Regions from separate parts of the Homo sapiens genome. Here regions 1, 3, 4 and 5 are each linked to region 2. The links come from fine-mapping of genetic effects on gene expression. A gene starts in region 2. Each other region holds a variant in brackets. All regions are shown on one strand. Distances are between the middles of the regions. Region 1 has its middle 92 kb from the start of LINC02200. Region 2 holds the start of EPB41L4A (erythrocyte membrane protein band 4.1 like 4A). Region 3 has its middle 85 kb from the start of LINC02200. Region 4 overlaps EPB41L4A (erythrocyte membrane protein band 4.1 like 4A). Region 5 overlaps EPB41L4A (erythrocyte membrane protein band 4.1 like 4A).

What was found. PIP is the estimated chance that this variant, and not a neighbour inherited with it, causes the effect.
Region 1: its variant is the best candidate, but not a certain one, in a credible set for the expression of EPB41L4A in whole blood (TOPMed, PIP 0.83).
Region 3: its variant is the best candidate, but not a certain one, in a credible set for the expression of EPB41L4A in blood mononuclear cells (TOPMed, PIP 0.60).
Region 4: its variant is the best candidate, but not a certain one, in a credible set for the expression of EPB41L4A in whole blood (TOPMed, PIP 0.77).
Region 5: its variant is the best candidate, but not a certain one, in a credible set for the expression of EPB41L4A in whole blood (TOPMed, PIP 0.67).

The regions. Positions count from the first base shown.
Region 1 is chr5:112,533,328-112,539,554 of GRCh38, forward strand. No RefSeq gene overlaps it. Among named protein-coding and RNA genes, the nearest start is that of LINC02200, 92 kb to the right of the region's middle. The variant C/T (reference allele first, on the strand shown) is at 3,134.
Region 2 is chr5:112,415,950-112,422,176 of GRCh38, forward strand. EPB41L4A (erythrocyte membrane protein band 4.1 like 4A) reads right to left here and starts at 3,328. Exons shown (of 23, transcript NM_022140.5): 1 at 2,992-3,328. The coding sequence starts at 3,090. EPB41L4A-DT (EPB41L4A divergent transcript) reads left to right here and starts at 3,634. Exons shown (of 1, transcript NR_027706.1): 1 at 3,634-5,029. RefSeq lists a silencer at 3,993-4,082.
Region 3 is chr5:112,540,157-112,546,383 of GRCh38, forward strand. No RefSeq gene overlaps it. Among named protein-coding and RNA genes, the nearest start is that of LINC02200, 85 kb to the right of the region's middle. The variant C/G (reference allele first, on the strand shown) is at 2,806.
Region 4 is chr5:112,296,809-112,303,035 of GRCh38, forward strand. The region is part of intron 2 of EPB41L4A (erythrocyte membrane protein band 4.1 like 4A); the gene reads right to left. Among named protein-coding and RNA genes, the nearest start is that of EPB41L4A, 120 kb to the right of the region's middle. The variant AT/A (reference allele first, on the strand shown) is at 3,417.
Region 5 is chr5:112,357,902-112,364,128 of GRCh38, forward strand. The region is part of intron 1 of EPB41L4A (erythrocyte membrane protein band 4.1 like 4A); the gene reads right to left. Among named protein-coding and RNA genes, the nearest start is that of EPB41L4A, 58 kb to the right of the region's middle. The variant A/T (reference allele first, on the strand shown) is at 2,989.

The DNA of each region.
Region 1 (6,227 bases), 120 kb after region 2:
CGCAAAAGAATAGGATGTGAATTGCTTGTTTTTTCATCTCAACTTAGAAGAAGAAGCATCAAAGGGAATTCTCAGAGAGCTTAATGTGTATTTCCTGAAGTCTGGGGGTGGGGACACACTGCACTTGAGTGTGACTCCCCTCTGAGCACTCAAGGGTGAGAGACAGGCTGGACAGCAGCTGACTGGTAAGCCAAGGGAAAGATGGCTGGGTTGACATAGGCCTGCATACACAGAATTTGTCAGAGCAAGAGATGCATGGATTTTACATAACAGAAATGTGAACCACACACAAGAAAGCTGGCATGAGGTCATCTTATATCCTGTCCAATAGGGCTACCTAGGAGGGCAAAGTCCTCAGTAGAGAGAAGCTGATGGCATAGTCTGACTCATAGGGATTGGAGAGGGAATAAGCAACACACCGAATGAGAGGGCACCATTCACATGAACAGAGTTGCAGAGAGATCCTTGAAGATGGTGTGGAAGTGGAGAGAGGACAAGGAGTGAAATCTCCAAAGAATACATGATGGCATCTATGAAATCATTACCTTTAAACTCACGCCAGTGCCAGAGAATATTTGAAAATTGTTGTGGGTTTTTTTTAAAAAAAAAAAAAAAAAACAATCTCAAACTTACAGAAGCATGCATGTACAATACTAAAAACTTTTTCCAGAATTATTTGAAAGCAAGTTGCCAATATCATGCCTCACTGTGTGGAGTGACATCTTCCTCACCCTGTCCATGCTCTGATACCCTCCACAAGACCACCCTCCTCCTTGGGTTCCAACTCTGCACCAGGCTGCCACCCCATGTGTGACAAGGCATGAACTTTCTTCACCTTGCACAGGCTCTGGCTTCCTTAGGCAGCCCATACTCCCATGCAAATACCCACCTCAACTCATTTGACTCCAGTGTCTGGCCCTGGACAGCCTTCTTGGTGCAGATGCCCTCCTCAGCCTGCTTGGGGTCTGACATGCCACACCAATGCACCCCTCTGAGGCAAGGCCCTCCTCACCCAACTTGGGCTCTGACACCCCATTCTGGGCACCATAGCCAACTGTAATAGTTAATATTGAATGGACTGAAGGAGGCAAAGTGTTGTTTCTGGGTGTGTCTGTGAGGGTGCTGCCAAAGGAGATTAACATTTGAGTCAGTGGACTGGGAGAGGCAGACCCACCCTCAATCTGGGTGGGCATCAGCTAATCAGCTCAGGACCGAATTGTTCAGAATGGGAAAAGACAAGAACTTGGGAAAAGAGCTGCAAAGCCACCTTGTAGTAGCAGCAGTCAAGTAAAACCTCTCATGGTTATTTTAATTCTTCTCTTTCTTTGCTTTCAGATCTGGAAGGTTAAGAAAGCACAATTATCAGGCTGGGGGAGGAAGGGCATAGGAAGGGAAAAGGAACCAACTACACCCCTCCTCCAGTTGAAGGCTTCCTGGTAGGGGAGGGAAGATTTATATTTGAATCAGGTTCAGAGTTTTGCCTTATATGGGATGAGAAATTTTGACTTCCGAATTGAGACTGTGCTTGGTGACTAAGAGTGGCAATCGTTTTATTAGTTAAGTGTGTTAAGGAAAGCCATAGGACTGCTGATGTTTTTTATCCAAGAGCCAAGGGAAAACTTTCCCCATTGAATAAATATAAAAGGAAAGTGAGGGACAAATTATACCACCTTATCATTCCGCTCCATGAGGCCTGCTTGCTCCGTGCCTTCATTACATACATTTGCAGTGGCTGCCAATCTAGAACAAACAGGGGTTTTCTATAATTTCCAAGAGGCCCCAACTGTCTGAAAATCTACAGAGGAAACAAAAGTCCTTATGGTAACCCTTTTTTGGTTGTTCATTTCTTTAAAGATTGACAGGGTTTTGTTTGTTTTGTTTTTTGTTTTGTTTTGTTTTGTTTATCATTCTGTAATTAGGGAGAGTGTTCCAACAACAAAAATATATTATTTCTAGGTAACTGAGGTATAACTAAGAAGACCTCAAGGGCAAAATTCTGCTTTCTCTTTAAATCTCTCGCAAGCACATCTCTAATTTTATTTCTGCCTTTGTTGCTGTCTCATCTTAACTTCATCTTAGTAAAATTGTCATCAAAATCTTCTTGGGAGAGAAGAAGACTCACAGTCCGTGCCCATGGTGGTTTTTATCTGCCTGAACACAAGCCAAACATCTTGGGGCCAGTATCCTCAGAGGTCTTCCTTTATCACTGAGCTCTCCCTTGTACTCACCTCAGCCTCACTGCTGGGTGGGTCTATCTCCTGCCATCTATGCACCACCCAGGTCCTCCACTCTGCTGAAACTTCTTTTGAGCTATTAGGTTTGGATCATTCCTGGGACTTTTGTAATCTCTCACATTTTAGACGTGGTCCACTGAAAATAGAGTAAGTTTAATTCCAAATCCAACACCTTCATCTCTTTTGAGGGAGGCAAAAATTGATCACCTCTTTCCTACGGTAATGTTGTTGATCTTGTTTTTAGTTTATCTCTGTAATTCCCACTTTGTCTAGCACAGTGCTTTGAACATAATCAGAACTCAGTAAATATCTACTGAATGGATGAATTCATTCCATGAAGAAAGAACATGAAAGGATGATTAATGGAGGCAATTAGCCAGATAATTAAAAAGTATTTTTCCTCTACTATTCAGACATTTCAACAAGAGGATTTTTTGTTAACTACACAGATAATTACTTTAATATACCACATCACTCTTTATACATGTGTGGGACCCAATATTTGTATACACGTATGGCCTGACAAAAAATAGGTAACAGTTGTTGGATAAAGAATTATATTTGCAGAAATAGAATGGAAAAGATACTGTTAACAGTATTATTTCTGGGAAAAGAGGAAAGGGAATTGTTGGATCAACAAGGTCACTGGTCTTGTAGTTTTTACTGTATACACTTCTATATTTATACAGTGTTTTAATTTTTGTGAGCACGTATTTTCAATATTAATTTCTTAAAATTGTATTAACTAAGCAGAAAACTAAGCAGAGATATTGCGGACCTGAACTTTTGAGCTTTTAGCTTCATGGGTTCGTATTACGGGATACAATGCCCATGGGGTAGCAAATGCCTCCAGGGAACAGGCAAGTAAAATACATAAGCAAAGTGGACTGCAATATGGA[C/T]TGCAGCAAGTGGGGGCAAGGCAAGCCCTGTGCACAGTGGCCAGGTGCTGCCAAGTCCAGCCAATTACTGTTACACAGAAACATGGGACCAATGTTGTCAGATCACCCAGTTTTCAAAAGAAGTTCAAAATCTAGAATATTTTTAGAGAAGTTTCCTGATTTTTAAATGAAAGCAATTGATTGAAAAGGTTTGAGGTTTAAGATGCAGGCAAAACAAAATGTCTGTGGCCTAAATTCAACCTGTTTGCACACTCTGACTTAGGTAATAGCCTAGGGTAGATTGTTCGTTTGTTTGTTTTTAAACAGATGTAGAGGTTTCATGAAATTTTCTCATCCTTTGGCTATTTTTCTCTTATGCAGATTGTCAGTTAATATTCCAGAGTCTACAAAGGGCTGCAGGGATTTCCATGATGACTGAGCAGCAGGGCCCAGAAACCATCAATCCTCTGTAGGTTTATAAACTGATTCCCAGTTGGCACAGCATTCTGGGGTGGTCATAAAGAATAAGGTGTAGGGAGTAGTAGCATGCTTCCTGAGGGCTTCGAGGGCCAATAACTGAAATTAGGTTTATAGAAAATAATCACAATAATGGCAGGGAGTGGCCTTCAAATCCTAGAGCTATGGCCAATTGGAGTATGAAACTCTAAAGGAGCCATGAAGGCCACAAGGTCAGTAATGTGACATTTCAGTAGAAACAGATGTCAAGACAAATAAAAAGCATTTCTTCTCACATTAAAAACATTGAGATGGCAGATATATATGTAAGGAGATAAAGTCCATCCCAAATTCAGGCTTCATAATGAACATTGAGCCTTAAGGAAAGAATAATCCAGAACAGCCCAATGGAGTCTTATGTTCCATTTAAATCATCTGTAACACTATTCAGTAAAGACCATGAAGACACTGCACAGAAGCAGGTGAATGAATTCTGTCAAGCCACTTGCTGAATTACAGTATCATGCCAAGTACTTTCTCCTTACATATAATAATATCTACCATGCCACTTACCAGTGCTCACTACTGAAAATTTAGCTGAAAGCCAAGAAATAAACATTAACACACAAAAGCCCTCAAGGCATCTAAAACCAATCTCACAAGGCCAGGCAATAAGGATCACAAGGCTGATGAATGGGGCACCTTTTCATACAGCACATATTAACAATACTTAACACACAAAGCTAAAATAATGGGCTCTCTGGTTCTTCCATTAAAGTAATTTGGAAGCGGCAAGTAAGGACAATACCTGGCACATAGTAGGCACTCCACAAATTTATTGAGAAACAAATTAGAAACAAAACAGCTAGAATTATCAGCCAACTACCTGACAGGGAGAGAGGACATGTCCTGAAAAGTGGACACAGGCCTAAAGTAATCTATTATTCTGAAGCTATTAGGGGTACAAATAAAGCTCCTGAGAGCAGCACTCTGCACTGCACAACACAAAGCTCCTCTTACACCCTGGTTAAGAGGCTCAGCTTTGTAGCCAGGATCCAATTGCTACCTTACAGCTGGGTGAACTTGGTTAAGTACCTTAATCTCACTTAACATTGGTTTCCTCATCTGTAAACTCTGCCTCATAGGGTTGTGAGAATTCAATTAGTTAATACATGCAAAAATCATAGAATAGTGCAGGTACATAAAAAACATTCAATAAAGACTAGCTATGGACAAAAATACCATCATCATGAAAAAGACGACCTTATGTTCAGGATGATCTAATTAATAAGGCAGGAAAGTAAATAACAAAGGTATGGAAGATCTTCATCCAAAATTATTAAAACAAAATGTTTTGGTTTTGTAGAGAGCTGTTTTTAATTATCTGGAAAATTCATGTGAAATACTCCATTGAAAAGCAAATCTGCAGAGCTGAGGACAGTGTTCTGTGAAACACTGGAATTAGAGTGCCTAGACACGAGTTTCAGCTCTGCCAGTTGCCAGCTGTGTAGCACTGGGCAAGACACTTAAGCATGCTTCAGTTTTCTCATCCATAAAATTAAGATCATAGAAAAGTTGTTATCAGAACTATATTATGACTTCCATGGGCCCTGGGTACATTTGCCTTTATGAGTTGCTTCCTCCCTAAAATAATATTAAAAGTTGTTTGTACCACTGACTGAACTGCTGTAAAGACAAATATAATCTAGGCTGGTGATATGGTTTGATTGTCTCCCCAAAATCTGATGTTGAAATGTAATCTCAAAGATGGCTGAATAGGAGCAGCTCCGGTCTGCAGCTCCCAGTGAGACCAACATAGAAGGTGAGTGATTTCTGCAATTCCAACTGAGGTACCAAGCTCATCTCACTGGGACTGGTTAGACAGTGGGTGCAGCCCACAGAGGGTGAACAGAAGCAGGGTGGGGCATTGCCTCACCCAGAAAGTGCAAGGGGTTGGGGAACTGCCTCCCCTAGCCAAGGGAAGCTTTGAGGGACTGTGCCATGAGGGACAGCGCTGTCTGGCCCAGACACTAGGCTTTTCCCATGGTTTTCACAACCTGCAGGCCAGGAGATTCCCTCGGGTGCCTACACCACCAGGACACTGGGTTTCAAGTACAAAACTGGGTGGCCGTTTGGGCAGACACTGTGCTATCAGCAGGAGTTTTTTCTTTTTCATACCCCAGTGGTGCCTGGAATGCCAGCAAGGCAAAACTGTTCACTCCTCTGGAAAGGGGGCTGAAGCCAGGGAGCCAAGTGGTCTAGCTCAGTGGATCCCACCCCCATGAAGCCCAGCAGGCTACCATCACTGGCTTGAAATTCTCGCTGCCAGCATAGCAGTCTGAAGTCGACCTGGGATGCTCAAGCTTGGTGGGGGGAGGGGCATCCACCATTACTGAGGCTTGAGTAGCAGTTTTCCCCTCACAGTGTAAACAAAGCCACTGGGAAGTTCAAACTGGGCAGAGCCCACTGAAGCACAGCAAAGCTGCTGTAGCCAGACTGCCTCTCTAGATTCCTTCTCTCTGGGCAGCACATCTCTGAAACAAAGGCAGCAACCCCAGTCAGGGGATTACAGATAAAACTCTCATCTCCCTGGGACAGAGCACCTGGGGGAAAGGGGGCTGTGGGCGCAGCTTCGGCAGACTTAAACGTTCTTGCCTGC
Region 2 (6,227 bases):
AGATACTGTGTTTTATTTTTCTGGTATTTTTTTTTTAACAGAAAATTATTTTCCATTTAAATGGAAATTAAATGGAAATAAAATTATTTTCCATTTAACTGATATTCATCTTACCATATAAGATGAGTAACTGTTGTCTTCAGGCTGAAACACTTTTCATGATGACACATTAATTTTTTTTCTAACATCGATGAAAAACTTTATCTAAGTTGAAGAAAAATCACTTCAAAACTAACTTTTCTATTTGTAATTTGGTGCTTAAATAAATCCAAAGAATGTTTTTCAAAATGATACACAGAAAAAATGTTTACCAAGATTCTCTCATATTTCTTCCACCTTAACTTGCTATAATTAATCTTTTCTAATTCACAGTGCATTACTGTAACAATAATACAAGCAAATTCTCAAGTAACCATTTAGGAATCAGTAAAATTATTTCTACTAAGAGATGAAATGTGTGCATAATTTTAATGTAAAATTAGCCATCTTCATCTAAGATAGAATAGGAAAAAGGATAATCACAAAATAAATGTTAGGAAATGCTTTTGAAAAATAGAGATTTTTCTAGTTAATTTCAGAGAACAGTAGGCTAATTGATGTTGCCTGCTTAATTTTGACTTTAATTAGTGGTAATCAAAATTACTAAGTATACTATCTCAAGGAAAAACACCATAATGGTAGCTACTGGCTATTAACTTTGAAGTAACTGTTTACTTTTTCATTTACAAACTAAAGTAGGAGTTAATTTTAAGTAATTAATGCAACACACATCAATTGTACCTATGCACCATAATACAGGAAGGTTAGGAAAAAGTTTTTTAAAATGTCAAGTATGTACAGAACATAAACATGTTCATCCAATGTTTGAATACCTCTACATGCAAGTTTTTTTATACACACCATTTATAAATATGCAAATATATTTAATTTAGTACACGCCAAGGGTGGGTAGGTGTTTAACACATACACTTTTAAGGTAGCATAGAAGATAATGTGATTAGCTTTAGCAGACAACATCTGTGTTACACACATGGCCATCAAAATAATTGTGGCATGCTTTTGTGACAAGGACAGAGGCCAAGCCTGTTGTTAAATGATTATTTCCAACAACAGCCTGCTTAAATTATTGTTTAGTTATATGGCCCATATCCAAAGTAACAGTATTACATAGTTGCTGTTGCCTTTGAATCACTCACCAATTTTCAGCCCATTTGTAAAACAAGATAAGCACCACTGGATTATAAAAAATAATTATGGATCAGGATTTTTGATTCATGTTTCTTTGACAAAATTATTCCATTTGATCCCAAGTCCTGGCTGCTCTCTTGACAGAATAATGTACACGCTCTACAGCTGATAGGCATGACTTTGATGATTAAATAGGAAGCTCACATTCCAGATGACTTTAGACTCCAGATAATTTAGACTTTGCACTTCAAAAAGATTTCTTTACTGTCTTAGTATCTGATCATCAGTTACCTTTTTCTAATTGTTTCTATCTCGACACAAGAATCTATATATTATCTACAATTTAGGATGTTTTTGTGATTTTTGCCTATTTTATTCATACAGTACACCAAAGAATGTTACATCATCTTGTAAGTTACAATATTTTCCTGATTTCATTGGGCGGGTGAGAGGAGAAATATTTTGGAACATAAAGAAAAGTTAAAAATACAAAATGTACACCCTCCCCGAAAAGAGTCTATTTTATTGGTCTTGAAAGGAAATACCGAATGAGAATCGAACTGAATTTTGCTCAGTATAATTACTGGGGAAACAATATTCAAAACAACCTCCTAAAGGAAAGGGTTAACAATCTTGTAGCTTTAACTGATTATTTTTGCTCCTTTCTCCCGCAAAAGAATTACACCTATGAAACTGGAATTCTGTACACTAAGAATGGCAACATTAACGCTGAAACTTTTAGCCAGGAATAGTTATCCTAGTGTGCATAAAACTATGTAAAAACTGATTCACAAAAGGAAATGCCCAGGGCCTACCCCATTATGATTAACTTCTGAGATGAAGCGACTAAGAGAGGATACTTGGCAGCCTGAACTCGATTTCTCAGAAAGCCAGCTCTATCAGAGCGGGGGCGGGGGGGCGGTTTCCCTTCACCAGACTCAGCTGTTGCCTTATCTAAAATGCCTTAGCGATCTAAAACTGAAAGAGAAAGATAAACAAAACAACAAAACGCTCCGGATTTAGATCTCCTTTAGGTAGTTAACACTGTTGCAAAAGCAAAACAAGCACGCAGGCGCGTCGGTCAGGTTGTCACTACAAACATACGTACCTTCTCATCCAATGTAAGGAAGAGGATCTCTGCGAGCTCTGCTGCCTTTTTGTTTGGGCTCTCTAGGTTAATGTAGTGATTGCATTTTAATGACCCACAAACAGGAGCAAAGTTATTACTGGGTCGCTTTGAGAGATGTTTACTTAAATGTGAGGATAAACCCAGGTCGCTGTAGAAAGGGAAAATATTTTCCGTCCAAACGTAGCATTACCCAACTACGAACCCACGCAAAACAATCACAATGACCCATTAATGCGTTTCAACGAGTGAACTAGTTCACTTCCCTAATAACACTGTCAAGGAAAACGCCTTCAACAAAGTCGAGGGAAACCATGCCTTCCACACTGGTGGGACGCAGCTGGTATAACCCATTCTGCCCCTCTTTGAGAGCTGCGGGGCACCCAGAGGCTTTTGGAGAAAACCGGTTTGGGGAAGAGTTTTGGGGTGCTGCTGGGAGCCGGTGTGCTGAGTAAACTTAGAAACGTCAAACTCAACTTTGCTTTATGAAGGAACTCAAAGTTAACTCACCCTGGTACGTCCACCCTCTCCCTGCGCGCAGGGGACAGCGGCCTCTCCTCCCCACCGCGCAGAGTCGCGGCCGCCGCCCTCGACCCACCGGTGACAGCCCTCAAAGCGATGGACCCCCGCACCCGCCCTGCCGCCAACCCCCGGAACGCGCTCCGGGCCGCACCCACCTTGATGCCCTGCTGCTGGGTGGTAAGGGTTAACTTGGATTCATCCAGGAGCAAAACTTCGCAGTAAAATTCTTCCGGAACAGCGCAGAAACAGCCCATGTCGGTTGTGGTCGTCTCCAGCCAGGAGAGAAAGCTACCACCGAGGCGCCCAGCCGCCCCCTCCACTCAAGCGCGATGCATTAATTTATTGTCCGCGCCGTGGCGAGGGTGAGACGAGCAGCTCCCGGCGGGGTCCGGGGACCGGCCGCCGAACCGCCCGGCGGGGCGGGAGCGAGAAAGGCGGAAAAGCCCGGGAGAGTCAGCGCCCGGGAGCCGCCGGGGAAGCGCCGGCGGAACTGGGCGCGGAGGGCGGTGGCGCGTCCCCGCGCATCCTGCGGCTCGAGCTCCTCCGAAGGCGGGGGCGCGGGGCCCCTCCCGCAGTCCTGGGGACGACAAAAGTCTCCTGGCACTGGGGGCAAGAGACCAGAAAAAGGAGTGATGGGAATTCGAGGCTCTCCCCGGCCTTGGAAAACCCTGGAAGCGCTGCACCTCCCTCCTGCCGCACGGATTTGAGCGCGGCCCCGACGTCCTGGCGTCCGATCGGCCTGCGGAGTCCCCCGCGGGCGCGCACTTCCAGCCGCGACCCCGCCCCGCAGCCCCGGGTCAGATCCGCCGAGTATGAAGCGCTCGGCTTTTCTTTTGTGTGAGGAGCACCCACGACGCCCCGACCATGGGCGCAGGGGCAGAGGCGAAGGTCGTCGCTCCGTCCGCTACCCCGTCCCCCAGCCGCAAGCGCCGAGGAGCCGGAAGAGAGGCGGAAAGGGCAGCAGGCTCCTTACCCAGACCAGCGAGGGGAGGTCAGCTCGTCGCGGGGTGTGGCTCCCGTCCGGGGACTCCCGAGCTCATTACGGGTGGCCGTGTGTAGCCAAGTTCAAGCTCTCCCTCCGGGAATGCCTGCCGCGGCGGCGGAATACGGCTTCTTCAGGACATTCAGCAAAGCGGGGAGGCGGGGACCTGCGGGCGGAGGAGCGACGCCCCAGCTGGGAACGCGGCGGACGGGCGAGCGGGGGGTGCGCCCTGGGCGCGCCAGGCCGCAGAGGCTCCGGGGAAAGTTCTCTTGGCCGCGCGAGTGGTGGCGCCCCGGGCGGGAGCAGCCCAGGTGCATGTGGGCCCGGTCCAGGCGTCTGCAAAAAGCCCTGGAACGAAGCGGACCCCCCAGTCCAGCGCTGGCCGCGGCAGGGGAGCCCCTTCTGGGCGGGGTATCAGCTGGGGGCGGAGGGCGGGGCAGAGACCGTGGTCCCAGCGGCGAGGTGCCGGCGAGTCCACGCTGCCAAGCCGCACACTGCGCCCAAGCCGCGGGGCAGTCCAGCGCTCGCTGCGTCCTTCCCCCGAGAGACCTGGAGGCTGGGTGGGGAGAAGAGGACGCGGTGCTGCTCGGACCCCACGGTTCGGCGGTCCCAATCCCACGCCCTCCGCGCGGTCGGCCGCGTCCAGGACTGAGGGGCACAATAGCTCTGAAGCTGCAGTGACCCCTGGTGGGTCCCGATGTCCGTGCACAGGCAGCCGAGGTTGAGCTGCGGACGACACTGAGCCCCGCTGGGCTTCGGAGCAGGTGCAATCTGTGCTCTCCAGCTGGGAACCAGCAGCGAGTTAATGCGAGTCGCAGTTAGGGGAGACACGAGGGGAGGTGTCACAGAAAAAAAACTCTATATTGAGTTTTAGAGTTAGAGCTTTGGCATCAGACGTAGTTTTGAGTTGACTATTCTACTGCTTGTTAGCTGGGTAGCCAAAGCTCAAAAAAAATTGCTTAAAACCTAGGACGTTAGCCCTTAAAACAAAACCAGGCTTCCGTAGCACAGTAGAAATGAAATGAACAATTGGCGACTTTTGATGGAGTTTCCTCTCATAGTGATTTGCCACAAAGGACCTTCTGTAGGAAGCCTCGGCCTTCCCTGCTATTGTGACCCCATCCAAACACAGGATCAGCATAACCGCCAAAGTGCAATATAAATTTCTGAACTTTACCTAGGCTATGAATAAAACTATTTTATCTTCTGAATTTTCTGTGAAATTGACTCAGGTTTTGAATTTCTGATCAAATTTCGTGTCCAGCTTTGTTTTATTGTCAAAGTCTTGCCTGCCTTATGAGGTGACACCTTATTATGCTAGATTTTAGCATTTCTGCTTGTAGAGGCTTTTCTTTTCTGTAATACAGTATTCCTGACAGGAGTTACCAAATGTGATTGAAAGATGGCTTAACATTTTCATTCTTTACCTCCATATCCAACCGAGACACTTGAGGCTGCAAAAACAAAAGGTTCAAGCAATCATCTGTTCCCAGTTTTTTTGAGTTTTGCTCTCACCTGTTTTTTGGCCCTTTGATTTGGTTTTTTTGCTTTCTGATTTTTGGTTTTGCTGTTGTTTGTTTTTGTTTTTTTACCTCCAGTGGCAGTGAGAAGGCTGAGGGTTTTGGATGGGCAGGGATTCTGTTCCCAGCTCCTCATAAGGTAAGTTACAAAGCCATAAGGTCCCATACATATGACACTCTTTCCTGAGTGAAGCATTTTCTTTTCCATTTCTTTATCGGAGACTGGAGAAAAGAACATTTAAAATCTATTTAACACAAAATTAGAGATTACTAGTGACAAGAGGATTCCACAGAGTTTCTAAGGATAGCTTTATTGCATATAATTTACATACAGTTCACTGCATAATTTTTAAGTGTACAATTTGATAAGTTTTGACATAAGTGTGCACCCATGAACCCACCACCATAATCAAGCTAGTACACATATTCATCCCTCCCTAAGGTTTCCTCCTGCACTTTGTCATCTTTCTTTTTTTTTTTTTTTTTTTTGAGACAGAGTCGCGCTCTATCAGAGTGCAGTGGCGCGATCTCGGCTCACTACAACCTCCACCTGCCGGGTTGGAGCAATTCTCCTGCCTCAGCCTCCCAAGTAGCTGGGACTACAGGAGTGCGCCACCATGCCCTGTATTTTTAGTAGAGACAAGGTTCCACCATGCTGGCGAGGCTGGTCTCAAACTCCTGACCTCATGATCCGCCCGCCTCAGCCTCCCAAAGTGCTAGGATTACAGGTGTGAGCCACCGCGCCTGGCCACTTTGTCATCTTACACTCCCATTCCTCAGTACGACTCACCTCCCAGGCAACCATAGATCTGCTTTCTGTCACCATCATTTAGCTACATTTTCTAGAGTTTAATACCAATTGAATCATACAGTGTGAACTCTCCTTTTT
Region 3 (6,227 bases), 120 kb after region 2:
CTGAGCTAAAGAAGCACGTTCTAACCCAGTGCAAGGAAGCTAAGAACATTCATAAAATGTCACAGGAACTGCTAACCACAGTAACCCGGTATGAGAAGAACATAAATAACCTGATGGAGCTGAGAAACACAGCAAAAGAACTTCATGAAGCATACATAAGTATCAATAGCCGAATTGATCAAGGCGAAGAAAGGGTATCAGAGATTGAAGATCAACTTAATGAAATAAAGTGTGAAGACAAGATTAGAGAAAAAGAATGAAAATGAATGAACAAAGCCTCCAAGAAATATGGGATGATGTGAAAAGACCAAATCTATGTTTGATTGGTGTACCTGAAAGTGATGGGGAGAATGGAATCAAGTTGGAAAACACACTTCAGGATATTATCCAGGAGAACTTCCCCAACCTATCAAGACAGGCCAACATTCAAATTCAGGAAATACAGAGAATATCACTAAGATACTCCTCGAGAAGAGCAAGCCCAAGACACATAATTGTCAGATTCACCAAGGTTGAAATAAAGGAAAAAATGTTAAGGGCTGCCAGAGAGAAAAGTCAGGTTACCTACAAAGGGAAGTGTATCAGACAAACAGCAGATCTCTCTGCAGAAACCCTGTAAGCCAGAAGAGAGTGAGGGCCAATATTCAACATTCTTAAGGAAAAGAATTTTCAACCCAGAATTTCATATACAGCCAAACTAAGCTTCAAAAGTGAAGGAGAAATAAAATCCTTTAGGGACAAACAAATGCTGAGGGATTTTGTCATCACCAGGCCTGCCTTATAAGAGCTCCTGAAGGAAGCACTAAATATGGAAAGGAAAAACCAGTACCAGTCACTGCAAAAACATAGCAAAATGTAAAGACCATCGACACTATGAGGAAACTGCATCAACTAATGTACAAAATAACCAGCTAGCATCATAATGACAGGATCAAATTCACACATAACAATATTAATTTTAAATGTAAATGTCCAAATGCCCTAATTAAAAAACACAGACTGGCAAATTGGATAAAGAGTCAAGACCCATTGGTGCGCTGTATTCAGGAGACCCATCTCATGTGCAAAAACACACATAGGTTCAACATAAAGGGATGGAGGAATATTTACAAAGCAAATGGAAAGCAAAAATAAGCAGGGGTTTCAATCCTAGTCTCTGATAAAACAAACTTTAAAGCAACAATGATCAAAAGAGACAAAGAAGGCCATTACATAATGGTAAAGGGATCAATTCAACGAGAAGAGCTAAATATTCTAAATATATATGCACCCAATATAGAAGAACCCAGATTCATAAAGCAAGTCCTTAGAGACCTACAAAGAGACTTAGAGACTCCCACACAATAATAGTGGAAGACTTTAATACCCCACTGTCAATATTAGACAGATCAATGAGACAGAAAATTAACAAGGATATTCAGGACTTGAACTCAGCTCTGGACGAAGTGGGCTTAATAGACATCTACAGAACTCTCCATCACAAATCAACAGAATATACATTCTTCTCACCACCACATAGCACTTATTCTAAAATGGACCACATAATTGGAAGTAAAACACTCCTCAGCAAATGCAAAACAACAGAAATCATAAGAAACAGTCTCTCAGACCACAGTGGAATCAAATTAAAACTCACGATTAAGAAACTCACTCAAAACTGCACAACCTCATGGAACCTGAACAACAACGTGCTCCTGAATGACTACTGGGTAAATAACGAAATTAAGGCAGAAATAATTAAGTTCTTTGAAACCAATGAGAACAAAGACACATCATACCAGAATCTCTGGGACACAGCTAAAGCAGTGTTTAGAGGGAAATTTATAGAACTAAATGCCCACAAGAGAAAGCAGGAAAGGTCTAAAATTGACACCCTAACATCACAATTAAAGGAACTAGAAAGCAGAGCAAACAAATTCAAAAGGTAACAGAAGACAAGAAATAACTAAGATCAGAGCAGAACTCAAGGAGATAGAGACACAAAAACCCCTTCAAAAAAAATCAATGAATCCAGGAGCTGGTTTTTTGAAAAGATTAACAAAATAGCTAGACCACTGGCCAGACTAATAAAGAAGAAAAGAGAGAAGAGTCAAATAGATACAACAAAAAAATGATAAAGGGTATATCACCACTGATCCCACAGAAATAAAAACTACCATCAGAGAATTCTATAAACACTTCTATGCAAATAAACTAGAAAATCTAGAAGAAATGAATAAATTCCTGGACAAATACACCCTCCTGACACTAAAGCAGGAAGAAGTCAAATCCCTGCATAGACCAATAACAAGTTACGAAATTGAGGCAGTAATTAATAACCTACCAACCAGAAAAAGACCAGGACCAGATGGATTCACAGCCAAATTCTACCAGAGGTACAAAGAGGAACTGGTACCATTCCTTCTGAAACTATTCCAAACAATAGAAAAACAGGGACTCCTCCCTAACTCGTTTTATAAGGCCCACTTCATCCTGATAACAAAACCTGGCAGAGACACAACACAAAAAGAAAATTTCAGGCCAATATCCCTGATGAACACTGATGTGAAAAAACTCAATAAAATACTGGCAAACCAAATCCAGCAGCACATCAAAAAGCTTATCCACCGTGACCAAGTTGGCTTCATCCCTGGGATGCAAGGCTGGTTCAACATATGCAAATCAATAAATGTAATCCATTACATAAACGGAATCAATGACAAAAACCACATGATTATCTCAATAGATGCAGAAAAGTCCTTCAACAAAATTCAATACCTCTTCGTGCTAAAAACACTCAATTAACTAGGTATTGATGGAACATAT[C/G]TCAAATAATAAGAGCTATTTATGAGAAACCCATAGCCAATATCATACTGAATGGGAAAAAGCTGGAAACATTCCATTTGAAAACTGGAATAAGAAAAGGATGCCCTCTCTCACCACTCCTGTTCAACATAGTATTGGAAGTTCTGGCCAGGGCAATCAGGCAAGAGAAAGAAATAAAGCGTATTCAATAGGAAGAGAGGAAGTCAAATTGTCTCTGTTTGCAGATGGCATGATTGTATATTTAGAAAACCCCATCGTCTCAGCCCAAAATCTCCTTAAGCTGATAAGCAACTTCAGCAAAGTCTCAGGATATACAATCAATGTGCAAAAATCACAAGCATTCTTATACACCAATAACAGACAAACAGAAAGCCAAATCATGAGTGAACTCCCATTCACAATTGCTACAAAGAGAATAAAACACCTAGGAATACAACTTACAAGGGATGTAAAGGACTTCTTAAACTACAAACCCCTGTTCAAGGAAATAAGAGAGGACACAAACAAATGGAAAAACATTCCATGGTCATGGATAGGAAGAATCAATATCGTGTAAATGGCCATACTGCCCAAAGTAATTTATAGATTCAGTGCTATTTCCATCAAGCTACCATTGACTTTCTTCACAGAATTAGAAAAAACTGCTTTAAATTTCATGTGGAACCAAAAAAAAGCCAGTATAGCATGACAATCCTAAGCAAAAAGACCAAAGCTAAAGGCATCGCAGTACCAGACTTCAAACTATACTACAAGGCTACAGTAACCAAAACAACATGATACTGGTACCAAAACAGATATATAGACCAATGGAACAGATCAGAGGCCTCAGAAATAACATTGCACCTCTACAACCATCTGATCTTTGACAAACCTGACACAAACAAGCAATGGGGAAAGGATTCCCTATTTAATAAACGGTATTGGGAAAACTGGCTAGCCATATGCAGAAAACTGAATGTGGACCCCTTCCTTAAACCATATATAAAAATTAACTCAAGATAGATTAAAGACTTAAACATAAGACCTAAAACCATAAAAATCCTAGAAGAAAACCTAGGCAATACCATTCAGGACATAGGCATGGGCAAAGACTTCATGAATAAAACATCAAAAGCAATGGCAGCAAAAGCCAAAATTGACAAATGGGATTTAATTAAAGTAAAGAGCTTCTGCACAGCAAAAGAAAGTATCATCAGGGTGGACAGGCAACCTACAAAATGGGATAAAATCTTGGCAATCTATCCATCTCACAAAGGGCTAATATCCAGAATCTACAAGGAACTTAAACAAATTTTTGAGAAGAAAACAACCCCATCAAAAAGTGGGCAAAGGATATGAACAGACACTTCTCAAAATAAGGCATTTATGCGGCCACAGACATATGAAAAAAAGCTCATCATTACTGGTGGATGACACTGGAAAATCAAAACCACAATGAGATACCATCTCACACCAGTTAGAATGGTGATCATTAAAAAGTCAGGAAACAATAGATGCTAGAGAAGATGTGGAGAAACAGCTTTTACATTGCTGTTGGAGTGTAAATTAATTCAACCATTGTGGAAGACAGTGTGGTGATTCCTCAAGGATCTAGAACCAGAAATACTATTTGAGCCAGCAATCCCATTATTGGTTATATACCCAAAGGATTCTAAGTCATTCTACCCTAAAGACACATGCACACATATATTTATTGTAGCATTATTTACAATAGCGAAGAGTTGGAATCTACCCAAATGCCCACCAATGATAGACTGGATAAAGAAAATGTGGCACATATACGCCATGGAATACTATGCAGCCATAAAAAAGAATGAGTTCATACCCTTTGCAGGGACATGGATGAAGCTAGAAACCATCCTTCCCAGCAAACTAACACAGGAACAGAAAACTAAACACTGCATGTTCTCACTCATAAGTGGGAGTTGAACAATGAGAACACATGGACACAGGGAGGGGAACATCACAAAACGGGGCCTGCTGGGGGGTAGGGGGTAAGGGGAGGAGTAGCATTAGGAGAAATACCTAATGTAGATGACAGGTTGAGGGGTGCAGCAAACCACCATGGCACATGTATACCTATGTAACAAACCTGCACATTCTGCACATGTATCCCAGAACTTAAAGTATAATAAAAAAAAATCAAACTCACAAACAAAAAAGAAAGAAATATAATCTCCAGTGTTGGAGGTAGAGCCTAGTGGGAGATGACTGGATCATATGGATAGACTTTGTGTGAATGGTTTAGCACCATTTTCCTTGGTGCAGTGATGCAATCACAGCTCACTACAGGCTTAACATCTTGGGCTCAAGCATTCCTCTGTCCTCAGCCTCCCAAGTGGCTGGGACTACGGGTGCATGCTGCCATGTACAGCTAATTATTTTTTATTTGGAAAGACAAGGTCTTGCTATGTTGCCCAGGCTGGTCTTGAACTCCTGGTCTCAAGCGATCCTCTTGCACTGGCTTGACAACCACCTTTGAATTCTTCATTCATGCGCAGGGGCTCAAAATCCATTCCCCTCTCAAGCCTCTTGGCCAGCCTCTGGTCCTCCAGAGAGCAGTCTCTCAGACACTGTCCTCACTACCAATGTAAACTCATAAGCACAATTTAGTCAGGTTACTTCTTGTGCCTGTGTGTCTGCTTTCCCTGGAACCATGCACTGTACATGAGCAAGTAGCTCAAGACATGAAATGGATGAGCTTTACTTTTCTCATTCTCATCTCCGCTTCCCGATGTGGAAGCATTTCCAAGTGTCTGAACTCCTAAGACTAGTGTTGGGCCAGATCCCAACACACGCATAAAACTAAAAGGATACCCTTCATCCAACAGCTTTTTTTTTCTTTTCCTTCTTCACCTGTCTCTAGCTGCATCTTCTTATTTGTGTTTTAAGTTAGACAGTGTTGAGAGCAGGAAGTCACCATTTAGTATTCAAAGAGGCGTTCTGATCTGGCCATGACAAGGTAGAGAATAAAATAAAACCCATTGTAAAACCCTTCAAAGTAATCTGAGTAAGCTGTGCGGATTTCATAGTGACCAGCCACAAGCTTCTGGCTGCGAGCACCTAGCTTGAATTTCTCTGCTACCAATAAATATGGGAGAAATCTTTTGCCAATTCTCTAGAGAAATAAAAACAAGATATACTAAGATCAGATATTCCATATTTATTTTGTAGGAATTGATAATTGCTTTACCTTGAGAATTTAGGCTGAGAAGAGTTTGAATTTACATGTGAAAGTTATGGTCATCTTCAGCTAATTCAGTCCCTACCTCATCCTTTTATTGGTCACATTATACAAAATCATAAGATAGGTATCATTTCATATCATTCTCTTAAAGTAAAAACAACCTGGAAATCATCTCGTTTACTCACTTCATTTTACAGATGAGGAAACTGAGACCCAGAGGAGCAAAGCTCAGGGT
Region 4 (6,227 bases), 120 kb before region 2:
CTTTGCATCCTCATAGCTTAGCCCCCACTTACGAGTGAGAACATACAATATTTGTTTTTCCATTCCTGAGTTACTTCACTTAGAATAATAGTCTCCAATATCATCAAGGTTGCTGTGAATGCCATTAATTCATTCCATTTTATGGCTGAGTAGTATTCCATCACATACATATATACATACATACACACACACACACACACACACACACACACCACAGTTTATCCACTCGTTGACTGATGGGCATTTGGGTTGGTTCCACATTTTTGCAATTGTGAACTGTGCTGCTATAAACATGGGTGTGCAAGTATCTTTTTCGTATGACTTCTTTTCCTCTGGGTGGATACCCAGTAGTGGGATTGCTGGATCAAATGGGAGTTATACTTTGAGTTCCTTAAGGAATCTCCACACTGTTTTCCATAGTGGCTGTACTAGTTTACATTCCCACCAGCAGTGCAGAAGTGTTCCCTTTTCATCATATCCATGCCAAAATCTATTATTTTTTTATTTTTTTGATAATGGCCATTCTTGCAGGGGTAAGGTGGTATTGCATTGTGGTTTTGATGTGCATTTCCCTGATCATTAGTGATGTTGAGAGTTTTTTCATGTATTTGTTACCATTTGTATATCTTCTTTCGAGAATTGTCCACTCATGTCCTTAGTCTACTTTTTGATGGGATTGCTTCTTTCTTATTTGTTTGAGTTCCTTGTAGATTCTGGATATTAGTCCCTTGTCAGATATATAGATTGTGAAGATCTTCTCCCACTCTGTGGGCTGTCTGTTTACTCTGCTGACTGTTCCTTTTGCTATGCAAAAGCTCTTTAGTTTAATTAAGTCTCACCTATTTATCTTCATTTTTGTTGCATTTGCTTTTGGGTTCTTGGTCATGAAATCTTTGCCTAAGCCAATGTCTAGAAGGGTTTTTCCAATGTTATCTTCTAGAATTTTTATAGTTTTAAGTCTTAATGATTTAGGACTTAAATCTAAGTCCTTGATCCATCTTGAGTTGATTTTTGCATAAGGCAAGAGATAAGGATCCAGTTTCATTTTCCATCATGTGACTTGCCAATTATCCCAGCACCATTTCCCCACTTTGTTTTTGTTTGCTTTGTCGATGGTCAGTTGGCTATAAGTATTTGGGTTAATTTCTGGGCTCTCTATTCTATTCCATTGGTCTATGTCCCTATTTTTATACCAATACCATGCTGTTTTGGTGACTATGGCCTTATAGTATAGTTTGAAATCAGGTAATATGATGCCTCCAGCTATGTTCTTTTTGCTTAGTCTCACTTTGGCTACGCAGGCTCTTTTTTGGTTCCATATGAACTGTAGGATTGTTTTTTCTAGTTCTGTGAAGAATGATGGTGGTATTTTGATGGAAATTGTAATGAATTTATAGATTGCTTCTGGCAGTATGGTCATTTTCACATTATTGATTCTACCCATCCACGAACATGAAATGTGTTTCCATTTGCTTTCAACTTTTCCCCGTTCATATTATGTTGGCTGTGGGTTTGTCATAGATGGCTTTTATTACATTGAGGTATGTCCCTCGTATGCCAATTTTGCTGAGGGTTTTAATCATAAAGGGATGCAGAATTTTGTCAAATGCTCTTTCTGCATCTACTGAGATGATCATGTGATTTTTGTTTTTAATTCTGTTTATGTGATGTTTCACATGTATTGACTTGTGTATGTTAAACCATCCCTGCATTCCTGGTATGAAACACACTTGATTATGGCGGATTATCTTTTGTATATGCTGTTGGATTTGGTTAGCGAGTATTTTGTTAAATATTTTTGCATCTATGTTCATCAGGGGTATTGGTCTGTAGTTTTCTTTGTTATACTGACTTCACAGAATGATTTAGGGAGGATTTCCTCTTTATCTTGAAGAATAATGTCAATATGATTGGTATTAATTCTTCTTTGAATGTCTGGCAGAATTCAACTTGAATCCATCTGGTCCTGGACTTTTTCTTGTTGGTAATTTTTTTATTACCATTTCAATCTCACTGCTTGTTAATGGTCTGTTCAGGGTTTCTAATTCTTTCTGATTTAAGCTAGGAGGGTTGTCTCTTTCCAGGAATTTATCCATATCCTCCATGTTTTCTAGTTTATGCACGTAAATGTGTTCATAGTAGCCTTGAATGATCTTTTGTATTTCTGTGGTGTCAGTTGTAATATCCCCCATTTCATTTCTAATTGAGCTTATTTGGATCTTCCCTCTTCTTTTCTTGGTTAATCTTGCTAATGGTCTATCAATTTTATTTATCTTTTCAAAGAACCAGCTGTTTGTTTCATTTATCTTTTGCATTTCTTTTTGTTTCAATTTCATTTAGTTCTGCTCTGACCTTGGTTATTTCCTTCATTCTGTTGGGTTTGGTTTGGTTTGTTCTTGTTTCTCTAGTACCTTGAGGTGTGACCATAGATTGTCTAGTTGTGCTCTTTCAGACTTTTTGATACAGGCATTTAAGGCTATGAACTTTCCTCTTAGCACTGCCTTTGCTGTATCCTAGAGGTTTTGATAGTTGTGTCACTATTATCATTCAGTTTGAAGAATTTTTTCCACTATGGTCTGAGAGAGTACTTGATATAATTTCAGTTTTCTTAAATTTATTCAGACTTGTTTTGTGGCCTATCATATGGTCTATTTTGGAGAAAGTTCCATGCACTGATGAATAAAATGTATATTCTGAAGTTGTTGGGTAGAATGTTCTGTAAATGGCCAGGCGTGGTGGCTCCCGCCTGTAATCCCAGCACCAAGGCAGGTAGATCACCTGAGTTCAGGAGTTTGAGACCAGCCTGGCCAACATGGTGAAACCCCATCTCTATTAAGGAATATTATGTAAATATCTGTTAAGTCCATTTGTTCTGGAGTATAGCTTAAATCCATTGTTTCTTTGCTGACTTCCTATCTTGATGACCTGTCTAGTGCTGTCAGTGCAGTATTGAAGTCCCCCACTATTACTGTGTTGCTCTCTATCTCATTACTTAAGTCTAGTAGTAATTGTTTTACAAATTTGGGAACTCCCGTGTTAAGTGCATATATATTTGGGACTGTGATATTTTCCTGTTGCACAAGGGCTTTTATCATTATATAATGTCCTACTTTGTCTTTTTTAACTACTCTTAAAGTTTGTTTTGACTGACATATGCCTGCTTGTTTTTGGTGTCTATTTGCATGGAATATCTTTTTCCATCCCTTTATCTCAAGTTTATGTGAGTCCTTATATGTTAGGTGAGTCTCTTGAAGGCAGCAGATACCTGGTTGGTGAATTCTTATCCATTCTGCAATTCTGTATCTTTTAAGTGGAGCATTTAGGCTATTTACATTCAACATTAGTATTTAGATATGAGGTACTATTCCATTCATTGTGCTATTTGTTGCCTGTATACCTTGTTTTTTCTTAATTAT[AT/A]TTTTGTTTTATAGGTCCTGTGAGACTTATGCTTTAAGGAAGTTCTGTTACTGATGTGTTTTCAGGATTTGTTTCAAGATTTGGAGCTCCTTTTAGCAGTTCTTATAGTGCTGTCTTAGGACTGGCAAATTCTCTCAGCATTTGTTTACCTGAAAAAGACTATCTTTTCTTCATTTATGAAGCTTAGTTTTGCTGGAGACAAAATTCTTGGCTGATAATTGTTTTGTTTAAGGAGGCTGCAGATAGGGACCCAATCCCTTCTACCTTGTAGGGTTTCTGCTGAGAAATCTGCTGTTAATCTGATAGGTTTTCCTTTATAGATTACCTAATGCTTTTGCCTCACAGCTACTAAGATTCTTTCCCTCATCTTAACTTTAGCTAACCTGATGACAATGTGCCTAGGTAATGATCTTTTTGCAATTTGCCAGGTGTTCTTTGAGCTCCTTCTATTTGGATGTTTAGGTCTTTAGCAAGGCTGGGGAAGCTGTACTAGATTATTCCCCCAAATATGTTTTCCAAACTTTTAGATTCCTCTTCCTCCTCAGGAATGCCAATTATTCTTAGATTTGGTCACTTAATGTAATCTCACATTTCTTGGAGGTTTTGTTCATTTTTTTAATGCTTTTTTCTTAGTCTTTGTTGGACTGGGTTAATTTGATAACCTTATCTTCGAGATCTGAAGTTCTTTATTCTGCTTGTTCGAGTCTTACTGCTGAGAATTTCAAGAACATTTTGCATTTCTCTAAGTGTGTCCTTTATTTTCTGAAGTTGTGATTGTTTTTTATTTATGCTATCTATTTCACTGAAGATTCCTCCCCTCGTTCCTTGTATCATTTTTTTTGATTTCCTTAAATTGGACTTCACCTTTCTCTGGTGCCTCCTTAATTGGTTTAATAATCAATCTTCTAAATGCTTTTTCAGGTCAATCAGGGACTTTTTCTCGGTTTAGATCCACTGCTGATGAGAGAGTATGATTTTTTGGGTGGTGTTGAAGAACATTCTTTTATCATATTACCAGAATTGTTTTTCTGGTTCCTTCTCCTTTGAGTAAACTATGTTAGATGGAAGATCTGGAACTTAAGGCTGCTGTTCAGATTCTTTTGTCCCATGGGGTGTTCCCGTGATGTAGCACTCTCCCCCTTTTCCTAGGAATGTGGCTTCCTGAGAGCTGAGATGCAGTGACTGTTATTTCCTTCTGGATCTAGCCACCCAGCAGGGCTACCAGACTCCAGGCTGGTACTAGGGGTTGTCTGCACAGAGTCCTGTGATGTGAACCATCTTCATGTCTCTCAGCCATGGATACCAGCACAGTATTTGCAGTGTCTCTGGGTTCCTGCAGGAGCAATCTGCTTCCTTCAAAGGGTCTGTGGATTCTCTCAGCTTTCTTGGTATATTTCTGCAGTAGTTCTGGAGCAAAATTTCACAATGCAAGTCTCTACACACTGCACGATCCGTCCGAGTGGGAACTGCAATCTAGTCCTGCCCCCTGTCTGTCAATTTCCATAGAAAATATGTTTAATAATTATTAAAATGCATAGTATTTTGCTGTTTTAATTAATTGTATAGTGACAACCATGGTAATAACAACTACTTTTAGGGCTCAACAACAATTAGAGCCTTAACATCTTAGGAAATAAACTTTTAAAATTCCAATTTATATGTATATTATGGATATATGTTTTTTATTAATAAAAATATAATAACATTTTAGGGAGAAAGTAGAATAGGAATACAAGTTTAACGACATAAAAGGAATAAATAAATGTTTCTGATTTTTAAAAAAGAGCTTGTTCATAAATTTTTATAAAGGTAGATGAAGAGTACAAAATTGCTATGAAATATAAATTCATAGGATACATTTAAAAGGAATATGACAATTTGATTTTACAATGTCAGTATTTATGATAAACCAAAGATCTGGATCTACTAAAACTTACAAAATTTCAATTCTCAACCTAAAATTACACACGAGTACATGGTTTTTTAAAAAAATTCATAGACCAGGTATGGTGGCTCACACCTATAATCCTAGCACTTTGGGAGGCTGAGGCAGGAGGATCACTAGAGCTCAGGAGTTTGAAACCAGCCTAAGCAACATAGTGTGACCTCATCTCTAAAAGAAAAAAAAATCTTGAAAATCACTGATCTCAGAAACATTTTTTAAAAAGAGCAGATTTGGAGGGGAAGATGGCTTCAGTTTTGAATATGTTACCTTTGAGATACATGAGAGGCATCCGAGTAGTGAACAACAGCTAAAACATTATGTGGACCACACATGTTAAAGCACTAGTCTGTGTATTTTTTATAGATTCCTTCAATCATCACTACCACCCTATGAAGCTGGTACTATTACTATCTTCACTTTATAAACAGAGGAACTGAAGTATAGAAAAGTTAGGGAGACTCACTCAATGCCACACAGCTCTCCAGGTAGACTGTGGTTTGAACCCATACAGTCTGAATCCAGATTTTGAATTTTAACACAGTGTAGTCCCTCCTGAAACATCTGGGTTGAAGATAGGAATCTGAGGCTCAGTCTTTCAATATAATTTAAACCATGGAACAGTTACCAAGGAAAAGTAACACACATTCGTCAGCAGGAAACTTAGACCTTCGGTGCTATGGGGCCCCCTATAGATGCTTCCGGCTTCCAGGCCGTGGACTCTTGAAAAGCCACCTGCCATCATTGTTTCCCAGATACCCTTCATGTGTTGTTGTCAGCCCTCCCAGGATACTGTGCTTCTCATGATGCTCTTCATAAAGTCAAAGGGTTACCTAAGAGGAACTTTCTGCTTCTTGATCTTTCCCCT
Region 5 (6,227 bases), 58 kb before region 2:
GGCTTGTCAATAACCAGGTGAACAAAATTACAAGGCTGTGGAGAAGTTATCCTTTTTCATCAGTCACACCGGTCTTCCTCAATAGTCCAAGAACAAGTGACCATGGTGGAAAGAGTGGAGGCTACATACGGACTCAGCAAAGGACTTCTTCTCATGAACGCTGACCTGGCCTTTGCCAACAATGAGTGCCTGATCTCCCAACAGCAGAAGCCAATCCTCAGTCCAAGATGGCAACATTCCCCTGGAAGATCAGACAGCCACTTGGCAGCAGATTGATTATATTGGATCCTTTCCATCAAGGGAGAGGTAATGATTTGTCCTTACTGTATATGTCCAGCTGTGAACTTACACACATATATTACACATACACACATGAATTTATTTTTTACTCTCTTACTCCATGTTTTTCAGGGATTGGTTATGGTGGTTAACTTTATAATTTAGTTTCTATGTTACAGATTAGTCCTATAGAACTCTGGATAAACTGGAAAAGATAATTTCACAAAGACTGTAACTGTCAACCAGAAAAGAATTTCTTAATCTAAGATCCTGATACGTACCCATGGTTGATTATTAGGAAATCTAGAATCCCCTTGCAATCACAGAAAAAGGATCACCCATCAGGACAGCAAAAGTTTAACAGCTGGATGATACTGAGTAATGGCAAGGATGCAGAGCAACTAGAATTCTCACAGATTGTTAGCTGGAGTAGAAACTGGTATATCCACTTTAAAAAATAGCTGTCAGTACCTTCTAAAGCTAAACATACACCTACCCTATGATATAGCAATTCCACTTCTAGGTATACACACAAAAGAAATGAGTGCATATATCCAGCAAAAGATATATACAAGAATGTTCAGGGCAGCTTTATTTGTGATAGCTAAATACTGTCCACTGACAGTAGAATGGATAAATTATAGTATATTCACAAAATGAATTACCAAACAAAAGTTAAAGAAAAAAAGAACTTCTGCCACAGACAATAACATAAAAGAATCACAAACTTCAATGCTAGGTGAAAGAAAACAGACACAAAAATATATATATTGTATTATTCCTTTTATACAATGTCAAAATAGGCAAAATTAGCCTAAAGGGCTAAAATTCAGAAGAGTAATTTACCTCTGGGTAGGTACTGTTTGAAAAGGGACCCAAGGGAACTTCCTGGAGTACTGAAAATATCCTACCTCTTGATCTGGATGGTGTTTACACAACTATATCTATATGTAAAAACTCATTCAGCTATGTATTTAAGATTTGTATACTTTATATTCTACTTCAATAAAACTGTTCCTGAAAGATATTATGTATATGTACACATGTCTTAGAAGAGAATCCAGGGGTGTGTTTTCTTTCCCAATTTCTCTAATAGGTCTGTGATCCAACAAAGGTAAAGAACACAAATAAGAAATTCACTAAATTTTCAGTTGAGTGCTTGCTTTCCAACTGAGAGAAACTGCCTAGCCAGAGGCACCCAATTATCCAATATATAGCTGATTTCAAAAGCTTTTTCTTCCTAATGCTCCCCCTAAGGTTAATATGGTTGGAATAACAACTGTTGATTGAGTTTAGAATATGAAAAAACTCACTTCCTGCTTCAGATTCAAGGATACATAGAAGAAATATCCTTGAAAGTCTTCTTTTTTTTTTTTTTGAGACGGAGTCTTGCTCTGTCGCCCAGGCTAGAGTGCAGTGGCGCGATCTCAGCTCACTGCCAGCTCCGCCTCCCGGGTTCACACCATTCTCCTGCCTCAGCCTCCCGAGTAGCTGGGACTACAGGCGCCTGCCACCACGCCCAGCTAATTTTTTGTATTTTTAGTAGAGACGGGGTTTCACCGTGTTAGCCAGGATGGTCTCCATCTCCTGACCTCGTGATCCACCCGCCTTGGCCTCCCAAAGTGCTGGGATTACAGGCGTGAGCCACTGTGCCCAGCCAAAAGTCTTGATGAGTTTATTTTAAAGGTAAGTTATCTATTACTTTATTCTGAATAATTATGATACAGCATTTTCACTTTCCATCTCAACATACATGTTGCAAAACAAAATTTTCATCAGAACTCTATAATTACTGACGTGTATGTGCTTTTTTCATTTTAAAAAATATTTTATCCAGGCTAACAGATTCAACGGAAATCCAATAATTTGTAAAAGTAACTATCAGGCCAAGCATGGTGGCTCATGCCTGTAACCCCAGCTACAGATTCAATAGGAATCCAACAATTTGTAAAAGTAATTATCAGGCCAGGCACCATAGCTCACGCCTGTCCCAGCACTTTGGGAGGCCGAGGCAGGAGGATCACTTGAGTCCAGGAGTTTGAGACCAGCCTGGGCAACACAGCAAGACCCTGTCTCTACAAATAATAAACTGACCCTCGACCCTCTCCCCTCTCCCCTTTGCACGGTCTCCCTCTGATGCTGAGCCCAGGCTGGACTGTACTGCCGCCATCTCGGCTCACCGCAACCTCCCTGCCTGATTCTCCTGCCTCAGCCTGCCCAGTGCCTGGGATTGCAGGCGCGCACCGCCACGCCTGACTGGTTTTTGTATTTTTTGGTGGAGACGGGGTTTCGCCATGTTGGCCGGGCTGGTCTCCAGCTCCTGACCGCGAGTGATCTGCCAGCCTCGGCCTCCCGAGGTGCCGGGATTGCAGACGGAGTCTCGCTCACTCAGTGCTCAATGTTGCCCAGGCTGGAGTGCAGTGGCGTGATCTCGGCTCGCTACAACCTCCACCTCCCAGCCGCCTGCCTTGGCCTCCCAAAGTGCCGAGAATGCAGCCTCTGCCCGGCTGCCACCCCGTCTAAGAAGTGAGGAGCATCTCTGCCCGGCTGCCCAGTCTGGGAAGTGAGGAGCGCCTCTTCCCGGTCGTCATCCCGTCTAGGAAGTGAAGAGCGTCTCTGCCCGGCCGCCCATCTTCTGGGATGTGGGGAGCGCCTCTGCCCCGCCACTCCGTCTGGGATGTGAGGAGCGCCTCTGCCCTGCCTCGACCC[A/T]GTCTGGGAAATGAGGAGTGTCTCTGCCCCGCCGCCACTCCGTCTGGGAGGTGAGGAGCGTCTCTGACCGGCCGCCCCGTCTGAGAAGTGAGGAGCCCCTCCGCCCGGCAGCCGCCCTGTCTGAGAGGTGTACCCAACAGCTCATTGAGAACGGGCCATGATGACGATGGCGGTTTTGTCAAATAGAAAGGGGGGAAGTGTGGGGAAAAGAAAGAGAGATCGGATTGTTACTGTGTCTGTGTGGAAAGAAGTAGACATAGGAGACTCCATTTTGTTCTGTACTAAGAAAAATTCTTCTGCCTTGGGATGCTGTTAATCTATGACCTTTCCCCCAACCCCGTGCTCTCTGAAACATGTGCTGTGTCCACTAAGGGTTAAATGGATTAAGGGCGGTGCAAGATGTGCTTTGTTAAACAGATGCTTGAAGGCAGCATGCTCGTTAAGAGTCATCACCACTCCCTAATCTCAAGTACCCAGGGACACAAACACTGCAGAAGGCGGCAGGGCCCTCTGCCTAGGAAAACCAGAGACCTTTGTTCACATGTTTATCTGCTGACCTTCCCTCCACTATTGTCCTATGACCCTGCCAAATCCCCCTCTCCGAGAAACACCCAAGAATGATCAATAAATACTTAAAAAAAAAAAAAAAGAATAAAAAGAAAAAGGGATATCATTTAAACACAGTATGTAGAAAAGAATAATTATTGAATCTGTACTGGTCTTTAACTTTTACACTTTGATCTTTAATTCTGTTATTGTGATTGAGTCCAAAGAAAAATAGTAGAAGTAAAATAAAAAGAACACCAAAAATGCTAAAAAAAAATAATAATAATAATAATAATAATAAACTGACTGGGTGTGGTGGTGTGCACCTGTGGTCACATTTACTCGGGAGGCTGAGGCAGGAGGATCAACTGAGCCTGGGAGGCAGCAGTTGCAGTGAGCCATGATCATGCCACTGCCTTCAGCCTGGTCAACAGAGCAAGACCCTGTCTCAAATAAATAAAAATTAAAAGTAATTATCAGAGAAAATAAGAGAATCTAATTCTAAAAAGTCTTATGTTAGCCTTTTTCCTTCCTTCTTGATAAACCAAGCCATTGATATAAGCTATTTTAAATTCTTGGTCTTGTTGGCAATACCAACCAAAGGGCTAGTCTACCATTAGACAAAGGATCCCATTTTAAGTATGTAACACAATCATAGCATTAATTTTATTTAGTTTTCAGAGACAGGATCTCATTCTGTCACCCAGGCTGGAGTGCAGTGGTACAAGTACAACCATAGCTCACAGCAGCCTTGAATTCCTGGCCTCAAGCAATCCTTCCACCTTAAGCCTGGCAACTGGTTGGGACTACAGGCTCATGCCACCATGCCCAGCTTAGAGCATTAATGTTTTTTTTTTTTTTTTGAGATGGAGTCTCACCCTGTCACCCAGGCTGCAGTGCAGTGGCACCATCTCGGCTCACTGCAACCTCCAACTCCCACATTCGAGCGATTCTCCTGCCTCAGCCTCCCGAGTAGCTGGGATTACAGGTATGCGCTGCTGCGCCAAGATAATTTTTGTATTTTTAGTAGACACGGGATTTCACCATGTTGCCCAGGCTGGTCTCAAACTCCTGACCTTAGGTGATCCGCCCACCTCAGCCTCCCAAAGTGCTGGGATTACAGGCACGAGCCACCGCACCCAGACTTAGAACATTAATTTTAAAAGTCAACCAAAACATTAGCCTCACTTTATCATTAATAGCAATTCCATAAAAGTTAATGTCAACAGCACACAAAATTAAACCTTGAGGAACAACAGATAAAAGTCTTCTGTGCCAAACTGAAGTTCTCTAAAGTAATCATTAACAATACTTTACTGTTCTCTTAAATACACTGACATCCTAAAGACAAATCATTTTTTAAATAAATGCAATATAAATAATATCAAGTCTGACGATTCATCTCAAACCTGATCTGATGGCTTATGATGTTTCCTAAAAGTAGCAGGTAGCTTTATATGTATTTTTATTTGATTATTATTATTTTTTTTTAAAGGCAAGATTTCAGAAACCTTTATTTTGGAAAATATTTTTGGTCAAGAAACCCTGCCCTTGAAATCTATTACTTCAGGAAGCCAATTCCTACCTGAGTCCTGACTTCTTACAATGCAATTGGCCATATCATTTCCATTAGCCACTTTCAAGGCTTGAAAATGTCCTGTACACAAGTTTCAGCTGGTCTAGTCAGAGCCCAGTGTGAGTGGGACATTCAGGGGCTAAACCCTGCAGCACCTCCTGGCCTAATCAAAGGAGGTTCTGCAGCTGGGTAATAAGAGTGGTAACTTTATTATAGAAGAATTTTATTCCTTTATGTTCCCCATATAACTTATAAAAGACAAGTTATTTCATATTATATATTTTCAATTCAAACAATCCTGACTGGTGATGTAAGAAACAAAAAAATCATGCCCAACACTTTGAGAGGCTGAGGTAGAAGGATCACTAAGACCAGCCTGAGGCAAATAGTGAGACCCTTGACTCTACAAAAAAAAAAAAAAAAAAATCAGCCAGGCAGGATAGGTATCTTGTTTTCACCTTCCAGTTCTTCCACCTCAGTCTGTGTTATAAGGGAGATCTTTGACGTTTTTCTCAAGATCAATGAGAGTATTCATATCATCAATTTTTCCAATGATCTGGTCAGACATGTTCTGAAACTTATTTCACACATGTTGCAGGAACATCTCCACCATCAATGTGAGATCCTGCACAATCTTGGGGTCAGTCTCAGCCACCTCACCAGTTCCAGCTTCATAGTGATGTCTCAAACCATCACTTACCATTTGATGATTCTGATAGCTTAAATTTTTAAATATTAAGTTTACAGTTTAAGATTATTAACCAGTTACATAACACAGCTGCATGCACATTCAGCGGTTTCTATTAAAACTGTAGGTTAGTGTTTTCCCTACTTCAAATACTCACTTAAACACTGAAACCATTCATGCCATATTTTCATGTAAGTTTATAGAGTGTAGCATTCAAAAAATAGTCAATAATGAAGTTTACTTTCCAAAAAGCAGTAAATTCAGTATCAACTCTAGAAAAGGTAATAATGATCCTGTGCCAATATTTGCTTTCATTCATTTATTCATTCATTCATTCATTTATTTTTAGACGGAGTCTCGCTCTGTTGCCCAGGCTGGAGTGCAGTGGCGCAACCTCAGCTCACTGCAAACTCTGCCTCCTGGGTTAAG